Homo sapiens: one gene and its partners. The protein of the gene in region 6 purifies or fractionates together with the protein of the main gene of each other region. This does not show direct contact. Each region holds a gene or a part of one and is shown on either strand. Other genes may lie near its edges. The genes, in order: SMARCA1, HADHA, CPVL, PCF11, EXOSC7, VRK1 and DPYSL5.

What was found.
Region 1: the proteins of VRK1 (region 6) and SMARCA1 purify together in Homo sapiens (affinity purification with mass spectrometry; one large-scale study listed by BioGRID and IntAct). This does not show direct contact.
Region 2: the proteins of VRK1 (region 6) and HADHA purify together in Homo sapiens (affinity purification with mass spectrometry, with the first as the bait; one large-scale study listed by BioGRID). This does not show direct contact.
Region 3: the proteins of VRK1 (region 6) and CPVL purify together in Homo sapiens (affinity purification with mass spectrometry; one large-scale study listed by BioGRID and IntAct). This does not show direct contact.
Region 4: the proteins of VRK1 (region 6) and PCF11 purify together in Homo sapiens (affinity purification with mass spectrometry, with the first as the bait; one large-scale study listed by BioGRID). This does not show direct contact.
Region 5: the proteins of VRK1 (region 6) and EXOSC7 purify together in Homo sapiens (affinity purification with mass spectrometry, with the first as the bait; one large-scale study listed by BioGRID). This does not show direct contact.
Region 7: the proteins of VRK1 (region 6) and DPYSL5 purify together in Homo sapiens (affinity purification with mass spectrometry, with the first as the bait; one large-scale study listed by BioGRID). This does not show direct contact.

Annotation. Positions count from the first base shown.
Region 1 is NC_000023.11:129,488,991-129,492,490, forward strand, and holds part of SMARCA1 (SWI/SNF-related matrix-associated actin-dependent regulator of chromatin subfamily A member 1), read right to left. Parts: intron 3,104-3,500; coding exon 2,951-3,103; intron 1,203-2,950; coding exon 1,070-1,202; intron 96-1,069; coding exon 1-95.
Region 2 is NC_000002.12:26,231,133-26,234,632, forward strand, and holds part of HADHA (trifunctional enzyme subunit alpha, mitochondrial precursor), read right to left. Parts: intron 3,224-3,500; coding exon 3,085-3,223; intron 1,148-3,084; coding exon 1,028-1,147; intron 1-1,027. UniProt on the Homo sapiens protein: Mitochondrial trifunctional enzyme catalyzes the last three of the four reactions of the mitochondrial beta-oxidation pathway.
Region 3 is NC_000007.14:29,136,538-29,140,037, forward strand, and holds part of CPVL (probable serine carboxypeptidase CPVL isoform b precursor), read right to left. Parts: intron 1-3,500. UniProt on the Homo sapiens protein: May be involved in the digestion of phagocytosed particles in the lysosome, participation in an inflammatory protease cascade, and trimming of peptides for antigen presentation.
Region 4 is NC_000011.10:83,155,665-83,159,930, forward strand, and holds the start of PCF11 (pre-mRNA cleavage complex 2 protein Pcf11), read left to right. Parts: upstream 1-1,466; 5' UTR 1,467-1,775; coding exon 1,776-1,967; intron 1,968-4,266. UniProt on the Homo sapiens protein: Component of pre-mRNA cleavage complex II, which promotes transcription termination by RNA polymerase II.
Region 5 is NC_000003.12:45,007,244-45,009,607, reverse strand, and holds part of EXOSC7 (exosome complex component RRP42), read right to left. Parts: intron 2,189-2,364; coding exon 2,033-2,188; intron 1-2,032. UniProt on the Homo sapiens protein: Non-catalytic component of the RNA exosome complex which has 3'->5' exoribonuclease activity and participates in a multitude of cellular RNA processing and degradation events.
Region 6 is NC_000014.9:96,803,882-96,807,381, reverse strand, and holds part of VRK1 (serine/threonine-protein kinase VRK1), read right to left. Parts: intron 1,070-3,500; exon of another isoform or gene 1-1,069. UniProt on the Homo sapiens protein: Serine/threonine kinase involved in the regulation of key cellular processes including the cell cycle, nuclear condensation, transcription regulation, and DNA damage response.
Region 7 is NC_000002.12:26,931,632-26,935,131, reverse strand, and holds part of DPYSL5 (dihydropyrimidinase-related protein 5), read right to left. Parts: intron 3,493-3,500; coding exon 3,448-3,492; intron 1,875-3,447; coding exon 1,799-1,874; intron 555-1,798; coding exon 398-554; intron 1-397. UniProt on the Homo sapiens protein: Involved in the negative regulation of dendrite outgrowth.

The DNA of each region.
Region 1 (3,500 bases), on a different chromosome or scaffold from region 6:
CTCTTTAGAAGCAAAAACATGGGTGGCTCCATGCCGTATCATTTGTAACATTTCCTCTTTTGCCAGCTTGTTAGACTGTTGGTCAATGAGTCTTCCTAATGATAAAAATTGAAATTGTACATATTCAATCAATCATATTCCAAAGAAGGCATAATCATTCTAATCAGACATTATCACATTTAACCACACATAAAGCTTTAAAGAACAAAAAATTAGTGAGCATTAAGGTTATTTGTTTAATAAACCCTACAAGTTTTTCTTCTAGCATACTTTCTATTTCTATATAAATTCCCTTCTGTAAAACTCAGTTAAAACCCAGAAGGACAGAAACTTTTTTTCATGTTCAAACTCTGTTTTCAGATCAAACTTCTCTATATGAAAAGGTACCCTCTAATATGTTTTCAAAAATTTAAAAGTAGCCATTTTATCTGCTAAATAATCTCAGGTACTTCAAAAAGCATGCTACTGACATTCAAGAATAAGCTAGTGATGTTCAACTACTCCATATATCAAATGCCAGGGTTTCAATTCAGAAGATTTCAATTAGCATTTTTTGTTCGTTTGTTTGTTTGTTTGTTTGTTTTTGAGACAGTGTCTTGCTCTGTCGCCCAAGGCGGAGTGCAGTGGCGCGATCTCGGCTCACTGCAACCTCCACCTCCCAGGTTCAAGCAATTCTCCTGCCTCAGCCTCCTGAGTAGCTGGGACTACTGGTGCACGCCACCACACCCGGCTAATTTTTTGTATTTTTAGTAGAGACAGGGATTCACCATGTTGGCCAGGCTGGTCTCAAACTCCTGATCTCAGGTGATCCACCCGCCTCGGCCTCCCAAAGTGCTGGGATTACAGGCATGACCTACCTCACCCAGCCTCAATTAGCATTTTTAAATTTTTTCCTTTTATTTTTAGGTGATACATAACAATTGTACAGACTCATGGGATACACAGTGATGTTTCAATTTTTCCTCTAAGTTTTCAAATTTTGGTCAACTTTTATTAAAAGTAATCTCCTTTGAAGAAAACTACATGTGTTTTACAAAAAACACCTAATTAAGTTTCTATGTATAAATACCTTGTTGTATAACAATTGAATCGAGTCTCAGTTTTATCTCAGCTCTTTCTACAATCCTCTCTTCAACAGTGTTGTCAGTGATGAGACGGAATACACGTACTGGTTTCTTCTGACCAATACGATGTGCTCGATCCTAGTAGAAAGAGTTCTAATGTAAGATATTGGATATTCTGGATAAAATTTAGAGCCATCATATGCTATAAAATTCTAAAAATAAAATTAGTTATTTTTCTCTAGATCTGACACTTTGGAAAAGAGCATGATGAATATTGAGAATATCTAAAGACCACTGGGAACAAAGAAATCTGCAAATATTATATTGTACCATTAATGGGAAACTTCCAGGACAAAGGGCAAAGCACCTGTAAGATGAATAAAAGAGGGAGCTGAAAGTTTCTGGATTGAGTTACTAAGTAACTTTAAGCCACTAAATATAAACATCTTCGAAACTAGCAAGGAATTTTATTAAGTAGTTAGGGTTGCTATGGTGGCAAAAGTCTGCTTTATTTCATCATCAGGCACTTCTTTCTGCTTACTGAGGGATATGCAGTAAAGAGTTATAAAAATTAATGGGATATTACTATCCTTACTATTCAGTAGCCTAGGACTGGTCCTATGGTTTATAGTTGGTACAGGTGACAGGTGGCGAACTTCTAGTGGTATAAAACCATCTAGGGAGAGTATTTTTAAAACACAGAAGCTGCTAGAGCAAATAGGTAAAGGGAGGAGGGTGGTAGAGAAAAAAAAAATGTAAGTTCAAAACAGGCCTTGTACTAAATATAAAAACACTAGAGCCTAGTAACAAAGTTTCAACACAGCACATTTTTCAAACAGAATGCAATCCCCTGCACATATTTACATTAAACCTGAACCAGCAAATCCTGAAAGATGGGATGCACACTAAGACTTCTACGGAAATGAAGTGCTATCACTATTAGATTTTCCAGTTCAGTAACACTGTAACTTACTGGGGCTTACTCCTAGTTAGTCATATCAAACAGGTAGTTCAATACCATCGTAATGCAATAATAATTACGCCAAAGCATATTGATTTTGGAATGTCCCAGTGGTCAATCCCTTTCAATTCTCTATTATAAAAGGAAAGCCTTCTAAGTTATACCTCATTGGCATATGACTTTTCATTGCTCCCAAAAAGACACTTATCCATAGCTATATATTCAAAACCTAAGAAGTTATTTTGCATCTTTTTACTTCTAAATTATATTTCTTTATCTGAAAATGTGAGTCACATTGAGAGAAGTTGTAGCTCTAGTTCAATAAATGACACCAAAATATCAAAGGGGTTACCTGTAGTGTCATGATGAAAGGTCAGAGAAACTTTGCTCCCTAAAAAAAAATGTTTTTAAGTGTAGAATAGCTTTTGCATGGTATCATTATTAAGTAGCAAGTGTTTTTCTGGAATATATTCCTTTCTTACCTTTTTGCCTTCTCTCCCAAATTGTTTTTTATGAAAGTTAAAATCCTACCTCTCTTAATTTCAGTACTAAGGATTTTAATATATTTAGTTGTTGAACAGAATAATAACAAGAGATTGTTTTTTAATCCTTTTCATTAAAACAAATTTATGTGTCCTCTTCAATCTGTAGGAATGGGAAAAAACTGACATTTCTATTTCATGAAAAAAACCAAAATCAACACATAAATGCTATAAGTTGGATCTGGGGTGTGTTTGTTGTTCGCTTTCATTTCTTTTGTTTTTGCAATTAGCATAGCAACTGTGTTTTCCAGGATAATCTACTGTAACTTCTATAAAATCTCTCAAAAATTGTTACCTTTTTATCATAAATGACCTTTATGTGTGTAAATAGCAATAGTATTCAGAGCTATGATAAATTTCTGACACCATTAAAGATTACTAACCATAGCTTGTAGATCAACCTGTGGGTTCCAGTCTGAATCATATAGTATAACCACATCAGCACTTGCCAGGTTAATTCCGAGACCTCCAGCCCTGGTACTTAGCATAAAGATGAATTTGCTACTATTAGGAGCATTAAAAGCCTCTATTGCTTCCTTTATTTTTTATTGATAAAGGGATAGAAGAAAAAGAGAAAAATAAAATTAGACCATCAGGGTCCTTAAGAAACAAATAAAAACATTTAAAATACATATAGAAAATCTTCACACACTTTATAATATTCCTTATAAATATACTTTATAATATTCTTCCATCTTCAAAAATATGTAAGCATCTATACATATACTGTACTGTGTGAATTTCTGTAGAAAGTATATTATATAAATGAAGTTCCTAATCTTTAAAAGCTTACATCGATAGATACAAATTTAGAACAATTACATACACAAATTTAACTAAGCAAGTAATAATTCATTTACATTATTTAAAAACAATAATAATGAAAACGTTTTGAGTGAGAGCTGAAATATATCTAGGAGGTAAAATATCAGA
Region 2 (3,500 bases), on a different chromosome or scaffold from region 6:
GCAAATATTTTTGATACACATATATGCATATTCATTCTTTCAATAAATCCTTATGACATTCCTATGAAGGAAAGCACATTATTATTATTAGAAAATTAACACCATAAACCTTGTTTTCTTTTGTGCTCAATTGAGATCAACTTCCCTGCAAAGAGTATTTCTGTTGAGCCTTGTTTTCACTGAGGAATCTACAGTGCCAGAAGCTATAAGGTTCAGTGGGCCCTTGAGTTGACATTAAGATTGCTCTGCAGCATCCAGGTCTGACTGTCCTTCCCTTCTCCTTGGAATTCAAAGCCTGCTGAGCCTCTTTTGGTTCCATACAACACAGCAGTGAGAACATCCAAATCAGACAATGAGGGAAAAGGTCTGCCTCTTATATTTGTAATGAAATATTAATATGACTCATGGTTTTGAAAAACTGTTAAGATGGTATTATGTGGAAAAGGAACCAATTAAACCATAAGCTCCAGAAATGCAAGACATGCATCTTAGTTATCTTTATCCTTCCTCAGAGACTAACAAAGGACCTTGATCAATAATTCTGTGGAATTAGGCCAGGCATGGTGGTTCATGCCTGTAGTCCTAGCACTTTGGGAGGCTGAGGCGGGAGGATTACCTGAGGTCGGGAGTTCAAGACCAGCCTGGCCAACATGGCGAAACTCCATCTCTACTAAAAAATATAAAAAATTAGCTGGGTGCAGTGGTGCACGCCTGTAATTCCAGCTACTGGGGAGGCTGAGGCAGGAGAATCGCTTGAACCTGGGAGGAGAAGGTTGCAGTGAGCTGAGATCACACCACTGCACTCTAGCCTGGGCTACAGAGCAAGATTTTGTCTCAAAAAAAAAAAAAAAAAAAAATCTGTGGAATTGAAAAAATAAGTACCAGGAATAAAGTCTGTCACTGATCCTGTACACTCATATTTTATTTGGTTTTTTAATTCTACAATGAATGCCCATATTATGCATTTTATACAAGAAAACAGATCTAAAGAGGGCATATAGCTTCACAAAGGGGATGTTAGACTCACCATTTTGGGCAGCCTTTGTGTGCCTCCTGCTCCTGGTAAGGCCCCCAGCAAAACTTCAGGGGTACCTAATACTGTTTTTCTGTCTTTTGTTGCTATTCTGTATTGGCATGAAATGGCAACCTTTGAACAAATGAAAGAAAATTAGAATGTTAGAAAATGTAACTTAGTAGCAACTTGAGATGGATAAGGGTCTAAAGATTATTTATAAAGCAGGAATGTGCTCACAGAATAAACTGAAATTCCTTAGGCTGGCATTTAATAATTTCTAGAATTTACCTTTTTAGCCTTTTTTTCATACTTTTCCTCTAATTTACTAACCTCTTTTTGGGCCGTAGATCTCCTAAAAAATCTACTGAAAGCTAGAGAAGCTCTCAAGAGAAAAATGCACACACAATTTTATATGGACCCCAGGTTAAAAAGCCCCGGACTCTCCAATCAAGCACGTCTACTTACAGTGTCCTAGTTGGCTTTGCTTTTGCCTTTGCTCACACCATACCATATGCGGAATTGTTTTTCCCTCCATATTCTGGTTAATCAAATTCTGCTTATAGTTTAGGACCAGGCACAGGTTTTCTTAATTAATATAGTCATGTGTCACATAATGAGGGGGATATGTTCTGAGAAATGTACCATTAGGAAATTTTGTTGTTGTGTGAACATCGCAGAGTGTACTTACACAAACCCAGATGGCAGAGCCTGCTACACATCTAGGCTATATGGGATAGCCTATTGCTCCTAGTCCAGCAGTCCCCAACCTTTTTGACGCCAGGGACAGGTTTTGTGAAAGGCAATTTTTCCAAGAACTGGGGGTGGGGTGGGAGGGAGTGGTTTCAGGATGAAACTGTTCCACTTCAAATCATCAGGCAATAGAGGCCAATGGAGTGCGCAACCTGGATCCCTCTCATGTGCAGTTCACAACAGGGTTCCAGCTCTTATGAGAATCTAATGCCACTGTTGATATGACAGGAGGCGGAACTCAGGTGGTAATGTTCACTCGCCCACTGCTCACCTCCTGCTGTGGGGCCCAGTTCCTAACAGGCTATGGCCTGGGAACTGGGGACCCCTGTCCTAAGGGGCTACAAACCTGGACTGCATGTGACTATTGAATACTGTAGGCAACTGTGGCACAGTGATAAGCATTTCTGTATCTAAACACAGAAAAGGTATAGAAAAATGTAGTGTTACAGTCTTATAGAACCACTGCTGTATGTGCAATTGGTCATTGAAACGTTATGTGGTAAATGACTGCATATGTGAAAGTGTCTGGCACAGAGTTCAGCATGTGAAAAGTGCTCAATGAATGTTTCCTTTTCCCCTTCTTTTCTTTCCTACATGTTCGGGTCTAGTAAGCATCTCTTCTCTCAAATCTTCTATTATTTACCGTCTTTACTACTGACAAAGCACTTATATTATGCTTTATGTGTCTCAACCAGACTTAAGTAGCTTAAGAGCCTAGATCACACTTCTGAATCTTTGCCCTGCAAACTTGAACAAGATTTTTACAGCTGAAAAGGACATTAGAGATGCAGTTCAAATGAAAACATCACACCTTCATTTACTTGCTTTGTGCCACTTGCTCTGTGTCATGTGGATTAAGGATTAACACCTATCCAGAAGTTTGATAACTAAAAACAAAGCTATTTAGGCACAGTGGCTCACACCTGTAATCCCAGCACTTTGGGAGGCCGAGGCGGGAGGATCACCTGAGGTCAGGAGTTTGAGACCAGCCTGGCCAACATGGTGAAACCCCATCTCTACTAAAAATACAAAAATTAGCTGGGCATGGTGATGCACACCTGTAATCCCAGCTACTGGGGAGGCTGAAGCAGGAGAATTGTTTGAAGCCAGGAGGCAGAGGTTGCAGTGAGCCAAGATCGTGCCATTGCTCTCCAGCCTGGGAGACAAGAGCAAAATTCCGTCTCAAAGCAAAAAACAAAAAACAAAGCGGATTCTCCTCCAGAAACTTTTTCCAGGCAAAGCAGTAGCCTAAGGGTTTACAGCTGATGAATGCCACCAATGAGTTGGACAGTGTCTCAATAACTTTAGAATATCTATACCTCAAGTCCTCCTCCCAGGCAGGATCCATTGATGGCAGCCACAATAGGCTTTGTGGACTTTTCAAGTTTCTCAACTATTCTCTGTGCTTCTTGTGATAGCTGTGTTACTTCTTGAAGGGTCTTGCAAGCGGCTAACATGCTGCATTATCCATAAAAGTAGAGAACAGAGAAAAAGATAAAACTATAATTTATTTGGTTCAATACTTATTCACTATACACTTATCCTATCATGCATCAATATTTGATGACAAATCTTCAAATAGAAGGTTAAGAATGATTTTGCTTCAAATAGCACAATAGCAGCAACATCATTTCTCCATAAAGAGTGTTAAACTTCTGGATCCATGAGACCATCCCGGCTAACACGGTGAAACCCCGTCTCTACTAAAAATACAAAAAATTAGCTGGGCATAGTG
Region 3 (3,500 bases), on a different chromosome or scaffold from region 6:
AGGTGTAACCCTAAAACCAATAAATCAAGAAACAGATTAGGCAGATTACTTGGAAATTTGGAATTAAAGGCTAGAACAGACAGGTAAAAGTATGAGAGGAGGTCTCAGAGATAAGAGAAGGATGGGGAGGTGGGGAGAAGAAGACTAAAATTTTTTATCATGAGAATTATAACATTACTTTTATTATATTGACAAAAATCAAAAGTAGTTAAGAAGAACTCAAAAACTAAACTTATTATCTCCTTCCCTAAACTTGTCCTTACTTCCCTATTTTTCATCTTGGTTGGAAATACTCCCATCAACTCAAGTACTAAAGCCAGAAATCCAGGATGTATTCTTTATTTATCCATTTTTCTCTGGCCCTGCATTCCCACAGCCAATCAATCACCAACTGAATCTCCTAGATGTTCTTCAAATTCACCTTCACCTCTCTAAATCTACTCTCATGGCCTAATCCAGTTCTTTATTGTGACTTGCCTGGACTACTGCAAACCTCCAAACTAGTTTCCAACCTTGACTTTAACTCCTAATTAAATGAATCCCTCTATACTTCCCTCATGTGCTGCTGTCTCTCCTATTGAGGTGGCATCACTGTCTGGGGTAAATACCTGGGGTTCGCCATCTCATGCCAAGATTAAGGACATGGACACGCACAAGGAGTGAGTTTAGGAGCAGAGGTTTAGTAGGCAAAAGAAAGAGAAAGGAGAACACTTCTCTCTCTTGCAAGAGAGGGGCATCTGAATGGGAAATCTGGCCCTCCGTGGAGTGCACCAGATTTTATAGACAGGCTTGAGGAGGTGGTGTCTGATTTATATAGACAAAGATTGGCCCACAGATTGGCTGGACCAGGTGTGACATTTACATAGCATGCAGGGAAGCTGGCCACCTCACCCTAACCTTATTAAGCAAATGGGCTTTCCACTTGGCCAGCATTACTGTCTGTTCCCTACTGTACACATGGTTGGAAAGGAAAAGGGAAGACGGAGCTGCCATTTTGAACATGCCTAGCCCAGGTAGCCTTTTCCTATTGGCACAACTGCCGGCATTCACCTGTGCAAGCTTCCAGCTTACTTGTCTATGTGTGTAGCTCAATTTTATAGGCAGGCTGCTCTTTGTTAGAAAAGAAAATGATTTGGGGTCTGCTTTTCATTAAAAGGAAAACCTTACCGAGGACTCCTGTACTCTCACTATCTGCCCAAATAATTTCTTCTTAACGCCTATATCACTATTTTGGGAGGTCATAGAATTTATAGCATTTAAAAATTTGTTATGCAGCAATAGATAACCAATACAGAGGCAGGAGAAAAGCATAAGTAGGAAGTGGAGAAATAGGATGGAATCTAGAGAAGTCAGTAGAGAGCTGATCAGGGAGAGTTTTCTAGATATGCTAAGAATCTTTATCCTCTAGTGACTAGGAACTACTGAAGGGCTTGATAATTTGAAAAGAGTACTATGAACATCAATGTAAGGATGGACTTAAGCCAGAAAGACAGCAGGCAGGAAGGCCAGTTAATATGTTTCACAATAATCTAGAATAAAGATGACAGGAGTTTGAACTAGGGCTGGAAACTAGTAATAATAGCGTGGAGAGGGCAGACTTAAAAATAATTAGAAGGTTGACTGGGAGCAGTGGCTCACGCCTGTAATCCCAGCACTTTGGGAGGCCAAGGTGGGTAAGATCACCAGAGGTCAGGAGTTCCAGACCAGCCTGGCCAACATGACAAAACCCTGTCTCTACAAAAAAATACAAAAATTAGCCAGGCTTGGTGGTATGTGCCTGTAATCCCAGCTATTCAGGAGGCTGAGGTGGGAGGATCACTTGAACACCGGAGGCAGAGGTTGCAGTGATCCAAGACCACGCTGCTGCACTCCAGCCTGGGCAAAAGAGCGAGACTACGTCTCCAAATAATAATAATAAGAAGAAGAAGAAGAAAGTAAAACTGGAAGAAACTTGTGATTATATATTAGAGTTGAAATAGAACAAAGAATCTAGGATGATCCCAGATGTGACTTAGATGGCTGGGTGGGTGGACAGTGGTGCCATTAACCGAGAAAGAGAGAGACCCAGATCCCTGGGAGTGAAAATCAGCTCTGCTGCTAATCAGTCTAAGATGCTCCCAACAGAACATTAACAATGTTTCTATATACCCAAGGCCACTCTGCAGCTGCAGTATGATGGACAGTCCTTTTTTCTGAGCAACTGCTGTATTCTTACCAATGATAGCGCTTTGTCCCTCCCATCTCCTGAACAGAGACTGCTGAGAGTCTAAGTTCCTGAGCTGCCACGGGCACTTGGCAGCAGCTAATCCAGCGGGTACCTCTTCCCTGATCCCTCCTTCGACTCATTCAGCACAAGGCCAAATATTTCAGAGGCCTCTTCCCACTTCTCCCAACCTTTGGGTATGTGTCCTCCTTTGCTGGACATAATGCTAACACACCTAACTTTGTGTCATTACACATGTATTTCTCATATTCTCTGCTGAGTGGGTTTCAACTTCCATCCCACTTGAAAGGTGTGCTGAGAAAAGGTAGAAGGAGACTAAAAAATAGGGAGAAAAGAGACAATAAAGCCAGACCGTAGAGGATGGCTGCGGGCTCCCTATAGTACATTACATTCTAAGACGAGCAGGAAAGGCTCTGCCACAATTCCTGAATGTACAAGGTCAAAAGTTCCAGCCTTCACTTTGCCAACAGGTATATCCTTGGGCAAGCCAATTCACTTCTCCCCTTGGACTTCAGTTCCTTCATTTGTAAATTCTGGAGATTAGATGGACTATATAATTCCCAAAATCCCTTTCAGCTTGGAATGTCTAAGATTCTAAAAATGCAGCCAAGGAGATCAGGCTAAAACTGCTTCAGGCTTTGAGTCACAGGGATGATTCACGCAGGCTACCTTAATGAAAGAACTTCCACATCTGCTCTAGGTGCCCTGAACCTACACATTTCTGTCAGTGTTCGTAAGACAACCTAAGAAACCTAAGAAAGGCTATTCTTGGGGGGGCAGGGGGGCTACAACACTGATTAAATTACATGTTTTTTAAGCACAGATTTTTTAAAAATCCTATTAAAATTCTAAATCAGTGGCTTCCAGCAATTTTTCTCTGAAACAGACGTCTCGGATTTTGCAGACACCAATGTTCAGGCACACGTGTACACAAGAATGGTGGAAAGAGTCATGGTTTTACATGGAGTGTGCAGTCTGCCAGCTCAGAAATCTCCTGTGTCCCAACGGCACAGGCGGTTCATTCTCCTGCCAGCCAAGTTAATTCTACCAACATGCCAATAGTTAGAAGGGGAGAAAACAAAACAAAACAAATTATTTCCACTTGACTTGCTGATTGCTAATAATATTCTTCATCAAGTAACCCAGGCAGGAACACTTTTCATCTTCAGAATTAGCTATGGCTGCCATTTCCCCTTTTGTCAAATACAGGGAGATATTTCCCACGGTCTGCACATGACTCAGAATGGCTTCATCTTTATTTCACGTTCTACATTTC
Region 4 (4,266 bases), on a different chromosome or scaffold from region 6:
CATGCCCGGCTAAGTTTATTTTTTAAGAGCAATTTCTTCTGGGGAGCAACAAATTATCTCTCAAATGCCTAGTAGCCTACGGAAGGCAATGGAAAAGCAATTTTAGGTAATTGACACTTTTTTTTTTTTGAGACAGACTCTCGCTGTCACCAGCCTGGAGTACAGTGGCGTGATCTCGGCTCACTGCAACCTCCACCTCCCGGGTTCAAGCGGTTCTCCTGCCTCTGCCTCCCGAGTAGCTGGGACTACTATAGGCGCACGCCACCACGCCCAGCTAATTTTTGTATTTTTAGTAGAGACGGGGTTTCACCATGTTGGCCAGGGTGGTCTCGATCTCTTGATCTCGTGATCCGCCCGCCTCGGCCTCCCAAAGTGCTGGGATTACAGGCGTGAGCCACCGCGCCCAGCCCGTAATTGACACATTTTAAAAGCTTATATTTAGGTCAATATCGCTACTCAATGAAAAAATTACGTTTGGTTTGTGTTATGTCGCAGCTCCACGGTGAACTATTTGAAAGCTTTGTGTGTTTTACGAGCATCATTTCCAACCTGGGAAGACAGCCCCACAAGTTTAAAACAAAAGTGCATGCGCGTGTGTGTTTTCCTACGTGCCCCAAATAGTGTATGCTAAGGAGGTTCTGAAATGCAGATTCACAGTGGAGATATTACGGTCCAGCTGGGTGTGGCTGTTGTGAAAAACTCTTCCTAGAGCTCATAGTGGGCTCCTTAAAGAGCTCCTCCAAACCCCCAAGGAAAAAGCCTTTCACACTTAATCTCTAAATAAAAGGCATTTTCCTGGGGATTCAAGTCAGGCAAGCTCGCCTAGGTATTTTTGTGGGTGTGGGAAGCGGCGTGCTGGAAGAAACTCTCCAGCAGTGCTTTCCGAAGTTCCGGGTAAATTGGGCACCTCCCTCCCACTTCCCAGTTCCCAGAGGGGCAGCTGGACCCGCCCTGGCTCTCCAGAGCACCTGAGACGCTAAGGGAGAGGGGGTGCGGCGGCAGAAAGCCTCCGCTCCCTCCAACCCCCGCTCCCTCCAACCCCCACCGTCGGTAGCAGCTACGGGGCAGGCGGGAGGAAAGATGATTGACAGGCCCGCTCAGTGGCTGGGAAGCTAGAGGGAGGGACGAAGAGGGGACGGCTGAGTCTTCTTCTCAAAGTGGTTGGGTTGGGCCGCGGGAACTGCCTTCCCAGGCCTATTGGCTTCCCTGAATGGGTTGTTATGGTAACAAATGACCGAACAGTCCCTTATGAATCGGCCAATGAGAAGGGCCGTCTTTTCCAGTGCGCCTCCGAGCAGTAGATGTTGCGAAAGTCCGGGTAGAGGCCGGAGAAGAAGGCGGTGCCAGGGCGTCCTGCGGAAGGGCCGGGGGCGGGGCTCGTGACGTTGCCGGGACAGCCAATCACGCCTGGTTTTATCAGTGGCCCCGCCCTTTTACCGCACATTTCCCCTCCCCTAGTTCATTTCGCACGACGCAGCGGTTGGGAACACAGACATTTTCGGAGCTGGAGCCGCCACTGCCGCCGCCATTTTGTGTCTGTGGAGAAAGAAGCTTCTGTGGCGGCTGGAAGTGGACGGAGATCACCCGCGAGACGGCGGCGTTTCATACCCGAGGTTCCCCCTGTGTCGTCCCCCATCCCCCCTCCGCGGTCAGCATGTGGTGAAGCCGGAGCCGCGAGAGAGCCGGGGAGAGGAAGAGGAGTCGGAAGGGAGGCGGGGTATCCAGAGCGGCTTCAGCTTCAGCTGCAGCGGACCTCGGAGGGGGGCCGCGGCGCAATGTCAGAGCAGACGCCGGCCGAGGCCGGTGCTGCGGGGGCCCGGGAGGACGCCTGTCGGGATTATCAGTCATCGCTCGAAGACCTGACCTTCAATAGCAAGCCGCACATCAATATGCTGACCATTCTAGCCGAGGAGAACCTGCCCTTCGCCAAGGAGATCGTCTCTCTCATCGAGGCCCAAACCGCCAAGGTTTTTATACACCCCGCAGCCTCCTATTACTTCTAATACTCCCTGATTTTAGTGTCAGCCTCATCCCAGGTCTCGCTTCCATCCCAAGGGGGACAGTGTTCCTTCTCTCCAACCCCCCCACCCCCCTCCAACTCAGGCTCGGTCTTTGGCCCAGGCTTCGAGCATGGGCCTCTGGGGGGGAGGGAGTGGGGAGGATAAAGGGTGGAGTCCCACTTCCGCTTTCCAACTCCCTTTTTAGGCCACCGCATTGTATATCCCGACACACACACGCTTTGAATAGAGCCCTTTGGGGTGGGGGAGACTTAAAGGCAGTTTGTGGTTTGGGGAAGTAAGAGTTAACATAAGCCATTTTAATTCCCTGGGAAGTGGGAGAGTGGGTCTCCCATTTTCCCCAAGCACCCTTTTTGGTAATTGTGTTCTGTGGGTTGGAAGGAGGTGAAGGGGGACCTGGGAGCGAGCTGTTGGTGGGTGGGAATAGGGATTTGGCCCCGAGTGGAGCAGCCGCCTGTTAGGAGCCCAACATGGCGCCTGAAAAGCACATGATGCGAAAGGGAAGAGAGGAGAATCCATTCCCTGCCAGCCAGGCAGCTGCTCACTCCCGTCAGCCCCATTTTGGGGTGGGGGCGGCTAGATAAAACTTTTATTCTCCTATTGGAGGGTCTAATTTGTCCCAAAATAGGGGCAAGTGGGGTTGAGGGTGGGGTTTGGGTGGGGGGAGGAGATCTTATCCAACCTGTAGGTGGAGAACTGGCCCAGAGGGTAACAAGTACTTGCAGTTTCTCTGAAAAGTTCAGTCCCTCCTCCTCTTCCTTTTCTCTTTTTCTCCCTTCCCTGATAGCGAAGGAGTGTTTTTCTTTACCCCTTGACAGAAGTGGTCCTCTGCCACCTTATATTTCCCTGTAGTCCTCCTCTTCTGTGGATTCATATGGGAGCGATATGTCATTTAAGTAAAGTTACTGTTCAACTTAGTTACAATGAGTTTTAATAGCGTCCCAGTGCTACATTTTATTTTTCAAGCTTGTACTCACGGTTTAGTTTTTTCTAGTTGTTAGTGATTGCAATTATCAGGATGAGCCTCCTTTTAGCAGAGTGAACCCCTTTTTAAAGGCCACTTTAACAACAACCACCAATATATTGTTTAGAGACGGTTTCTGTCTAGTGTAAAACTTGAGTGGTCTGACTCTAATAAATGGTTTTGAAATGTGTGACTGGTATTATAAAATTTGTGAATAAAACATATAAAATATGTATTTGTCTTTTTTATTTACCTTTGTAAGGTGTAGAATCTGTTTCCAAGACTTATTTTTATCTACGTGGTTGTGTGTTTTAAACAAAAGTCTTTAAGTGACTTGGGTTCATTCTTCTTTAGGTTCCATCCACTCTTTTGGGTAAACCTCTTCACAAGATACACGGTTTCAGGTGGTCCTTTCATAATTTAAAGAGGACGAAAAGGAAGGGTTTTTTTTCTTTTTCCTTTTAAGGACCTCAACAAGTTTATCATGCTCAGTCTGACAGCTAAGATACAAGTTTTCGTTCACTTTTTCCTGTGAAAGTGTATGTAAAACAGCTTTTTTTTTTAAGTGTGAGATTTAAAAAGGAAGCATTCGTCATACTCAACATGCTTTTTATTGATACCACAAACATCTTGGACATGAAAACTTAGTTTTTGCCTTGTTGAAGGCTTAACTTGACATTAAATGCCTTAAAGCACTTGTGTTTTTAAGGCAAAAACATTGATTTTTAAAATCTAATTACCTCGTATCTTGGGATTTAATATTCCACAGCGCCTAATATTTAGCAGCTCAGGTTGTCACTCAAAGAACCTTGCTGGTTTTTAATGGATCCGGAAGACCTTCGAGAACCGAAAACTAAATGCTGAATATAGTGACCACATAAAACTTGTGTTTGTATATCGCTACACAGTGATGAAAATAGATGAGCTCTTTGCTGGTAAAAGACAGCTGAAATTTTGGGGGCACACGTTTCCTGGTTATTTTTGTAAAGCCAGGTTGAGGAAAAGATGTAAAAGTCACTTTGGGGGATCTATCTTAATCTGGGTTGGGATCGAGGGTGAGGGGAGGGATTTCCGTTATTTGGTAGCAAACTGGCCTGGTTTTGTGTTTTGGAGGTGAATGTTTGTGTCCTTATTCTTTAGCTTCTCTGCGTTACTAAACTTAAAGGATTCACACTTAATTTGACTCCTCCCAAGAGAGAGCAGTAGCGAAAAATAATACATAAAAGGACTTCACTTGTACAATAAAAAATTAGCCTACTTAACAGACTTTGGTGTTTAAGAGAG
Region 5 (2,364 bases), on a different chromosome or scaffold from region 6:
CACTGCACTCCAGCCTGGGCGATAGTGTGAGACTCCATCTCAAAAAAAAAAAGGGCCTTTGGAAAGATTTTCCCATAACATTAGAAAAAGAAAAAAAAGTCTGAATCTGTCAAACAGGGGTACTGATTATTCATATACATGAGGGTGGGGAGAGAGGACAACAAGAGGAGATGAGATGGACAGGATGCCAGGACTTGAGAGGGCCTTGACGCCTCTGAATCCAGATGCAGGAAAGCAACTGCAGAGGCTAGGGGTGGCAGCCTGCACAACTACCCCCAAGGCTCTCAGCTCCACCAAGTCATTTTCCAGATTGCTGCATCCCTGTGTGAGATAAACAGTAAGACAGGGCCACAGAGCTATAGTCCCCTGTCCAGAGTTAGCAGACCTCACTCCCCAAACCTGAGGGGAGGACAAAGCTCAGCTCACTGAACAGAGCTCTGGTTCTGCCATCTATGACAGCCAGGGCAGATCTGGTTTATAAGGCTGACATTGCACAGTGGCTGGGAGCAGGGGCTCTGGACGCACACAGTCTTGGCTTAAATCCTAGCTCCAGTATTTATGAGCAGGGAGGCCTGTAGGCAAGCTGCTTATCCTCTGTGTGCCTCAGTTTCCTCATCTGTAAAAATGAGGACAATAATAATAGTTACCTCACAGGTTGTTGAGGACTAAATGATATATTTAAAGCAGTGAAAACAGTATCTGGCACATAGTACGCACACAATAAACTCCAGCTATTTGTTTACTGTGCTTGTTGTTGCTGTTTAAAGAAATTCTCATAAACTCTCCTGGGAGGGGGAAGAGTACCTTCTAAAACAAGGTTTGACAGTCCCTTGCCTAGAGGACTTTGGTAGAATTTATGCAGCATTAAGTCTGGAGAAATTTGAACTCAGGGTGCTTCATGGAGCACAGAGAATAAGAGCTGCCATTAGCTGAGAACTGATGACATATCAGGCACTGTGACATGTGCTTCTCCTCTACACCTCACATCATCCTAATAACAACCTCAGCAGTGTCTGGGCAGATATTACTATTATCAGTCCCACTTTGCAGATGAGGGGGACTATGGCCCAGAGCCAGGTTTGCAGCCAGGGCAGTACACCCTCACAGCCCATGGTTGGGAACTCCATGCTATATACAGTGCTCATTTTGGCCTTTTAAATAACATGATAAAGAGAGAAAGTAGATGTCATGTTCTTGGATTCTTCAGTATGAAGTCATTGTTTCTAAACACAAAAGAAGAGTGCTTGCTATTAAGCAATGATCTCTGGGCATGTGTGGTGATATAGAGGTTGCAAGAAAGTATGAATAATCAGATCCTGCTAACTCTGTTCCTGGAAGTTCAGTCAGTCAATCAGTCAGAAAGGTGAGGTGGATATAGGGGAAAGAAGGTCTGGGAAACAGGTGAGCAGGACCCTGTCCCTGCCCTGCGGGGCTTCCAGGCCAGTGAGGTGACAGACATGTGGGGCAAACAGTACAGAGAACTGTAGAAGCGCCTTGATGGCTCTGCTAGGGATGAGGGCAACCCAACCCAACTCCAGTGGGTCAGATTTCTTACCATCCCTGCTTGTCTCCATTTAAACACTTCTAGAGCTGTAACGAATTTGGGAGACAGCCACAGTTCAGCCCGTGCTTCCACCTTTACTCACCCACTTCTAGGGACAGGAAGCAGTGAGCCAAGAATTCTATTCCCTCATCAAGTCACAAAGGCCTGCACTTTTGGAGTTACGAGTGGCTCTTTACATTATGAAAGTCCAACAGTCTTATTTAGACACATAGAAATGAGATGGGGGGTACTTACTGAGGACAATTAATGGTTACTGGTAGGCTCCTTACCTCCCAGTCCAGAGTATCCACCCCCACAACCCCCCTTGATTAGGTCAGCAGACCCCTGGCTCAAACCAGCTGTTCCCAAATCTCCAAGTTTGGGGTCAAGGCTGTGAATGGGGAGAATCCCCACGGTATGACCAAGGGAGCAGGAAGCAGCAGGCACCCCGGCCAGGTCCCTGCACCTTCCTCAGAACTAAGGCCTCACCTCCATCATCTCGAAGATGCTCTCTGGGTCCAGGCTGCCCTTCCCCACTTTCCTCATGCACGTCACAACTCCCTTGCTGGTCACCGACACCAGCAAGCTGGCCAGCGAGCAGGCCTCCTCCTGAAGAGTAGCATCCACCACATGCCGATAGCCAATCTGCAAAGGCAGGGTGCGTGGCACACGGTGGGTCACGCAGGCCCCAGAGTCCCACCCCTGATGGCCTCGTGGTGGGAATCTCTACACCAGGCAAAAGTATTTGCACTGGTCATTCCAGGTCTTATTTTAGATTCTGCTCACGAGGAAAACAGCTGAGGGATTGTTCAACAATTCTC
Region 6 (3,500 bases):
TTCAAATCAAAAAGACTGAGAATACTTGATGACTATTTTCACATATTTGAAAGGATGTTACGTGGAAGAGGGATTCAGCCTGTTCCACATTTCTCCAAAAGGCAGAAGTGAGTAGAAGAAATTAAGTAGACTTCCACTCAATGTAAGAAAGAATTTTCTAATGGTCAAAACTTTAATAAAAATAGGATAGGCTGTCTCTAGAGCAGTGGTTCTCAACCAGAGATGATTTTGTCTCTGTAGCCAGAGATGCCACTAAACATCCCACAGTGCAGAGAACAAACAGTGACCCATGTAAAATGTCAACAGTCCCATGGTTGAGAAATTCTGCCCTAGAGATAGTGAGTTCTCTGTCGTTGGAGGCATTTCATCATAGACCAGACCATGTGATGATGTCACAAGAATGGTGGGCCAGGAATGGTGGCTTGTCATTCCAGCTACTCAGGAGGAGGATCATTTGCTCCCAGGAAATCAAGGTGGCAGTGAGCTATGATCGCACCACTGCACTCCAGCCTGGTTGACAGAGCGAGAGGAAGGGAAGGAGGGAAGGAAGGGAGGGAGGGAGGGAGGGGAATGATGGGAAGTGAGAGTGAATTGAAAAAAGTTTTGTTTCAGATACCTCTCCAGAGAAAAATACCTTCAGGTATATCAAAGTGAAAATGATGATGATGACAAACATTTATTGAACACTTACTGTGGGCCAGACATTACACCAAATGACTCATGTATACAGTTTGCAGTTAATTCAACAACTCTAAGATAGGTATTATTTTACCTTGATTTGATGCTAAATTGAATTGCTCTAATGTCACACAGCAGTCAATATTTGAACTAGATCTACCTGACCCAATTTTATATGTCACTGTCCAAAGCATAAACATCAAATGACTTTCAAAGCTTTCACACTCTGGAAAAGAAATGAACAAGCACATATTCCACAAGTATCAGGACAATGTCTGAACAGGTTTGTACTCACTGTAAACCTAGCTGGCTAGGAGAAAGAGGAAAGGATTATTTGAAGTAGTCCTGTGATGAAGAAGAGAACAATTATCCTGATTGTCCCCAATTGCCTACTTCTGTAAGAGCCAAGAAGCTCTTATATACCCATGGAGGATGGGATTAATGATGACATCCTTTTATCCATAGGCGTGAAAGCTCAGAATGGACAGACGTTTGAACATCCCCGACTGGGAATCCTGCCCTTAACAAATACACTAGATGCAGATACATGGTTTCTTGGCTGCCTATACTCACGCCCATCTGTCAGGATGGCAGTATGCCTGCTCACATGTTGGTCAAACTGTCACTAGGGCATAGGTGCCAAGCAATGATAGTTTTAAATGGGCAGCTTGCATAGCACTATAAGAGCTTGCTCTTCTGCAGAAAAAAAAAAAAAAAAAGAAAAATTCTCTGTGATAATACTGAAGGGCTGCAAATCACAAGTGAAATATTCTTGGTCAATCTCAACATTTCAGTGGAAAAAAAGATCTAGACAAGTAGAAAAGAATCAGAATAAGGAAGTTAAATCAAACAGAACAGGTACTTTAAAAACATGTGAGATGTTGCATGAAAGCTTTTAACACTGCCCTTCTTTCATTAACATGTGTCAATGGTAACCTCTTACACTGTAAAATCCTTGCCTCAACAAGTCATCACTGATTTTTTTCTTAATGGAATGATACATTTTTCCATGTTCTAAATAGGAACAGAAATGCATTGATTTCTAGTAGTTCGACACTATACAGGTTCTATTTGTTGACTGATTATTTTTAAAATGACTTAAGTCTAATCTACAGCCATGATAATCTTTTAAATGCACAAAAGAAAGCAGAAACCAAAGAGATCCCCACAGATAAACGGCAGGGGAGGGGAAGAGTATAATTTGCATGGAGAAAGAAACTAACAACTGAAGTAGGCACTAACAAAATGGAAAGTGAGTACTTTTGCTCATGAATTTAATAGGACTCGAGGGCAAAAACATAGATCTGTTATCTTTCACATCCCCCTGACTACAAGCAAAATGTTCCTATACTACATCTAGGTTTCTAGTGTATCCTTTAATATCTCACATGAAATATATAATGTCTTTACTGTCCGGAAATTCTTCCCTAAGACCAAAACCTTAAAGCTGCAATTTGAGCCATTTGTTCTTATGCAGTCCTCAGGATTTTGAAGAACAGCTGGTCATCATCATTCTCTGTATAGTTCTTCACATACAAGTATCAGGACATACTGATTAAATAACCCCTGAGTCTCCTCTTTGCCATGATAAATAAATCTGATCCCATTAACTTTTCCTCATTGGACCGATTTATGAACTCTTCATGTTTTTATCATTTCAGTTGCTCAACGCTTGGACTCTTTTCAGGCCTGGTAAGAAATGTCACCCACATCAACAATGAGCCAACGGAAACTACTCTTTTTCCCAAATGTACAACTTAATAACAGTAGCATAAATACGAAACAGTTTGGAAGTCCTGCTGACTTCTCCATATCCATCACTGAGGACAGCAGCAAAAGTTTGAAATCTACCACTGCCTTCTAGAAAATACTAGGAATTTATAACATTCTGAAGTAACACCACTTTTTTAGCTTTCTGGCAGATATTTGTAAAACAAAGTTGTAAGTCAAGGGTCATGATTATATCCTGTTCTTCCTACCAACGTATCACTGCCACAAATGGTCCTAAAACAACTTCTCTTTAATACCATTTCTATCATACCATTTTCCTGATTAAGAATATACAGCACCTTCCTAATAGCCAATGAAACTGATTACAAATGCTTCAATCTAGCCAGAAGTTTATATACTCTTTCTTTTTCACGAACCAATGATCCTTCCTTTACTTCTCTACTTCCCTTCACTTGCATGACTCCCAAAAATAGCCAGTTCTTACTTATTTTCTCTAGAACAGATCTTTGCCCATGTTATTCTCTAAAATGTTTTCCCACTTTTTCCAGACTCCAGCCATGTTATACCTTCAATAAACCTGTATTTATTAATAGTTAATTGCTCATTCATTTCTTCCTGTCTTTGTTTTGATACCTAATTTACAGTATATGGCCAACTGATTTTTGATTTTTAAAACTTATTGAATGGAGAAAGGGTAGACTTTTCAACAAATGGTTTTGGAACAACTGGACATCCATGGACAAAAGGAAAAGAAAAATGTACCAAGATCTAAAGCTCACATCCTGTGCAAAAATGAAACCAAAAAGGATCACGGATCTAAATGTAAGACATATAAGGGTAAAACAGAAGAAAAAATGAGAACAACCTCCTGACCTAGAGTTAGGCAGAGAGTTCTAAGATAGGCACTAAAAACACGATCCATATATTGAGAAGTTGGACTTTAACAAAATTTGAAACTTTTTTGCTGCTAAAGACACTGTTAAGAGAATGAAAAGACAAGCCAGAGACTGAGAGAATATATTTACAAATCATATATTTGGCAAAGGATTTTGTATACACAACATATAAAGAATGCTCTAAAATCAGTAAGA
Region 7 (3,500 bases), on a different chromosome or scaffold from region 6:
ACAAGGGGCACACGGGAGCCAACAAGAAGAGGGAGAGGTGAACAAAAGAAACAGAAAGGACCCCTACATTCTAGGATAAGTCACAGGCCACGTTCTGCAGCTCCCCACTGGGCTTTAGAGTAAGAGATCAATGTCCTTTGAAATTCCGAATAACCACGGTTCACAGTTCTATATGTGCTCTTCACTCTTATACTTCAGAAGATCTCACTCCATATCAAGCGGTCATAAAATCCCAATAGGATGGCAATTATCTGATGGGCTCAGAGAAGGTAAGAAAAGCACAATGATCCTATGGGCACAATGAAATCAAACCTAGCTCAGATTTGTTTCCTGGGCCCTCTATGACGTCTTCCTAAAGATGTACACATCCCTGCAATGTGCTGCTGAAACGCCTTACTTGGCCAGCAGGCTCATGAGGTAGGTTGAGGTGTTGGTGTCCAGTCTCAGGGGAGGCACCGTGACATAGGCAGCCGCGTGGGACCAGTCCTGGTGGTAGTAGTGTAAGCCTGTCAGCGTGGCATGTGCAGTGGTGGTCTCCGCCAGCACAACCTTCCCTGGAAGAAGAAAGGTCAGAACCATAACCAGGAAGCCACCGAACCTGAGCGATCGCTGGTGTGTGCCTCTCATTTTACAGGTGAAGGAGCTGAGGTCAGAGACAGGAAGGGACCTGCCCAAGCTCACAGGGCTTTTAAGAGCACAGCTGGGTTCAAGCCCAGAGAGCCTCCCTATTCTGCTGACTTAGGCAAGGAGGACAGAGGGACATGGGCACCGAGGCCCAGCAGGACCAAGCGGCACTTTGAGGAGTCTGGTTTGGCCAGATGACCAGAGCACTGGTGTGTGCAGGGTGCTGTTGGCAGATGGAGCTTGACGGTGGGTGAACAGGCATGCAGGGCCACGAATGCCACGCTAAAGAGCAGTCTAGACTGTTTTCTGGACAGGCAGTTGCTGTGAGCAGCTTCAAGAGAACGGTTGTGGTAGGACAGGGAGGGCCGTAGCAGGGCTGGAGGACAGGGAGACAGGAGGTGGGAGCAGTCACCAGGCTGGGACGACAGTCTAGGCGAGACCCTCCAAGGGGCTTCAGTGAGGGGAGAGGCAGGTGGCGGGATCTAGAGGGCGATAGAGTTGAAGGCCAGGATGCCCTTGCTTCTGATCGATTATAGTTGAAGGCTGAGATGCCCTTGCTTCTGATCTGTCTCCCCAGGCTTGTGACTGTGACTTTGTTTCTCCTGCTGCCAGGCCCTCACCAGCACCTGGGGCGGGGCTGGACTCCAAGCATCTGCAAGCCTTTAGGTACTGCCAGGCGATCCGCAACAGAAGCCATACAAGTGCCCCTCGGACTCATACACAGGGTTCCAGGAGGCTAAAAGGAAGCTGGGCCCACACACTGTTCTTTCTTTAGGGACTTCCCAAACAGCCCCTGAAATGCCCACTGAAACTGGTCCAGCATTTTATGTTAGTTGCCAAGGCAACTGCTAGTAAAATCTATGAGGCCAAAAAGACACTAATTAATGAGTGGGTTTAAAACTTGGAAAATGTTACCAGACCCAGGAGAAGTGACAGACACTTCCGTAAAGCTGTTATGCATACAAATTTGCAGAAGAAAAAGCTCATGTTCTAGCAGACTAAAGCCAGCATAGCACAGGGCAGCTCTGAGGAAGACGGTGGCAGATGAAAGGGAAGGGCTGGCTCAGGTCCTGGTTTCAGGAGCCGGGGCCAGGAGTGAGCACGGCTAATGGGCCCCATCCATCTCCAGTCCCTCCACTTGACCTGCTCTGTCCAGCCAAGTCTATGGACTCACCTTGCATCTTAGCAGCTGCGATAACGTCACCAGCCGAGATACTGGACACGTTGACCAGGTAGATTGGACAGTGAGTCTAAACACAAGAAACAGTGGGAAGTAGGGAGGGTTGACCCATAAACTTCACAAGCATCAGAATAACCCTGGCAAAGTCAGCCCTGGCACCAGCGCCTCCCCCTGCGTCACTCAACCCCACCCTCAAGGTGACAGTCCTTAAGCGGAGAATGCAGGGCTGGCAGTCAGGGCAAGGTTGCAGGAACTGCATGATACGGGGAGGCAGAGAACAGCCTCCAGCACCAGAGCCCACCGGGAAGCCCAGCCTGTGAAGTTCAAGACCGTCAAGTCTGAACCTCGCATTTTCTCCCATCTGACAACCATGACTGTAATTTAAAAGGGGGGAACTCTTTTTCCTATTTTAATTTCCTGTTCATAAACGTGATGACCTAGAGTTAGTCGTGTATTCTGTATCTAAAATTACGATGCCTGCTGTCTGAAGGCTGCTTATCAGTAGACAGAATGCACCCTGGAGATGAACAAAATACAAGGGGGTTAGGGTTCAGAGTCTAGGCAAGAGAAGGCTGACCTTGCGAACGGACACCTGGACTGTAATACTGGTTAGCTTTTTCTCTACTAAGCTGTGCAACCACGGTCCATGGCTTAACTCCTCTGAGCATATGCTTGAGCTAAAAGGCAAGGAACTGACTTTTTGTTGTTTGGGTCTTTCCTTATTCTGGGTTAAGTTCCACCAGGAAGTAATTGATAAATAACTATTGTCATGACAGTGAAACAATGTCCTTGTCCAGCGGCCAGAGCTCTAAAGTGCAATTGGGAAATTCTGTTTCCCCAGATGTTATTCTGTTCTCTTTGCTTATCACATTAGGAGGATGTAGAGTTTAGGAGCTGGACTGAGTTTACACGTGAGCAATGAACTGAGCTTCAGCAGGCTCGGCGGGGTGGAATGGAAAGCTGGTGGTGAGAAGGGTGAATGCAAGGATGGTGGGCATGACAGCGCTCAGTCAGCAAACAGCTCTGGGTTCCTGTGGGCAAGACATGGTGCTGGCACCCAGAGCAGAATGGGGCTGCATCGTAGAGGTTGGTTTTCTTTCTTTCTTTCTTTCTTTCTTTTCTTTCTTTCTTTCTTTCTTTCTTTCTTTCTTTCTTTCTTTCTTTCTTTCTTTCTTTCTTTCTTTCTTTCTCTTTCTTTCTTTCTCTTTCTTTTTTCTTTTCTTTCTTTCTCTTTCTTTTTTCTTTTCTTTCTTTCTTTCTTTCTTTCTTTCTTTCTTTCCTTTCTTTCTTTTCTTTTCTTTCTTTTTTTTTTTTTTTTTTTGACAGAGTCTCGCTCAGTCACCCAGGACAGATTGCAGTTGGCACGATCTTGGCTCACTGCAACCTCCGCCTCCTGGGTTCAAGCAATTCTCCTGCCTCAGCCTCCTGAGTAGCTGGGATTACAGGTGCACGCCACCACGCCCAGCTAATTTTTGTATTTTTAGTAGCAATGGGGTTTCACCATGTTGGCCAGGCTGGTCTCAAACTCTTAACCTCAGGTGATCCACGCACCTCGGCCTCCCAAAGTGCTGGGATTACAGACATCAGCACCGTGCCTGGCCAAGGTTGGTTTCTAATCCCACAGTGGACATCGGGGGACTTACCCTGTTTGCAATGGTGATAACACGATGAGTGGCTTCAGCTTCCAGCTGTTAGA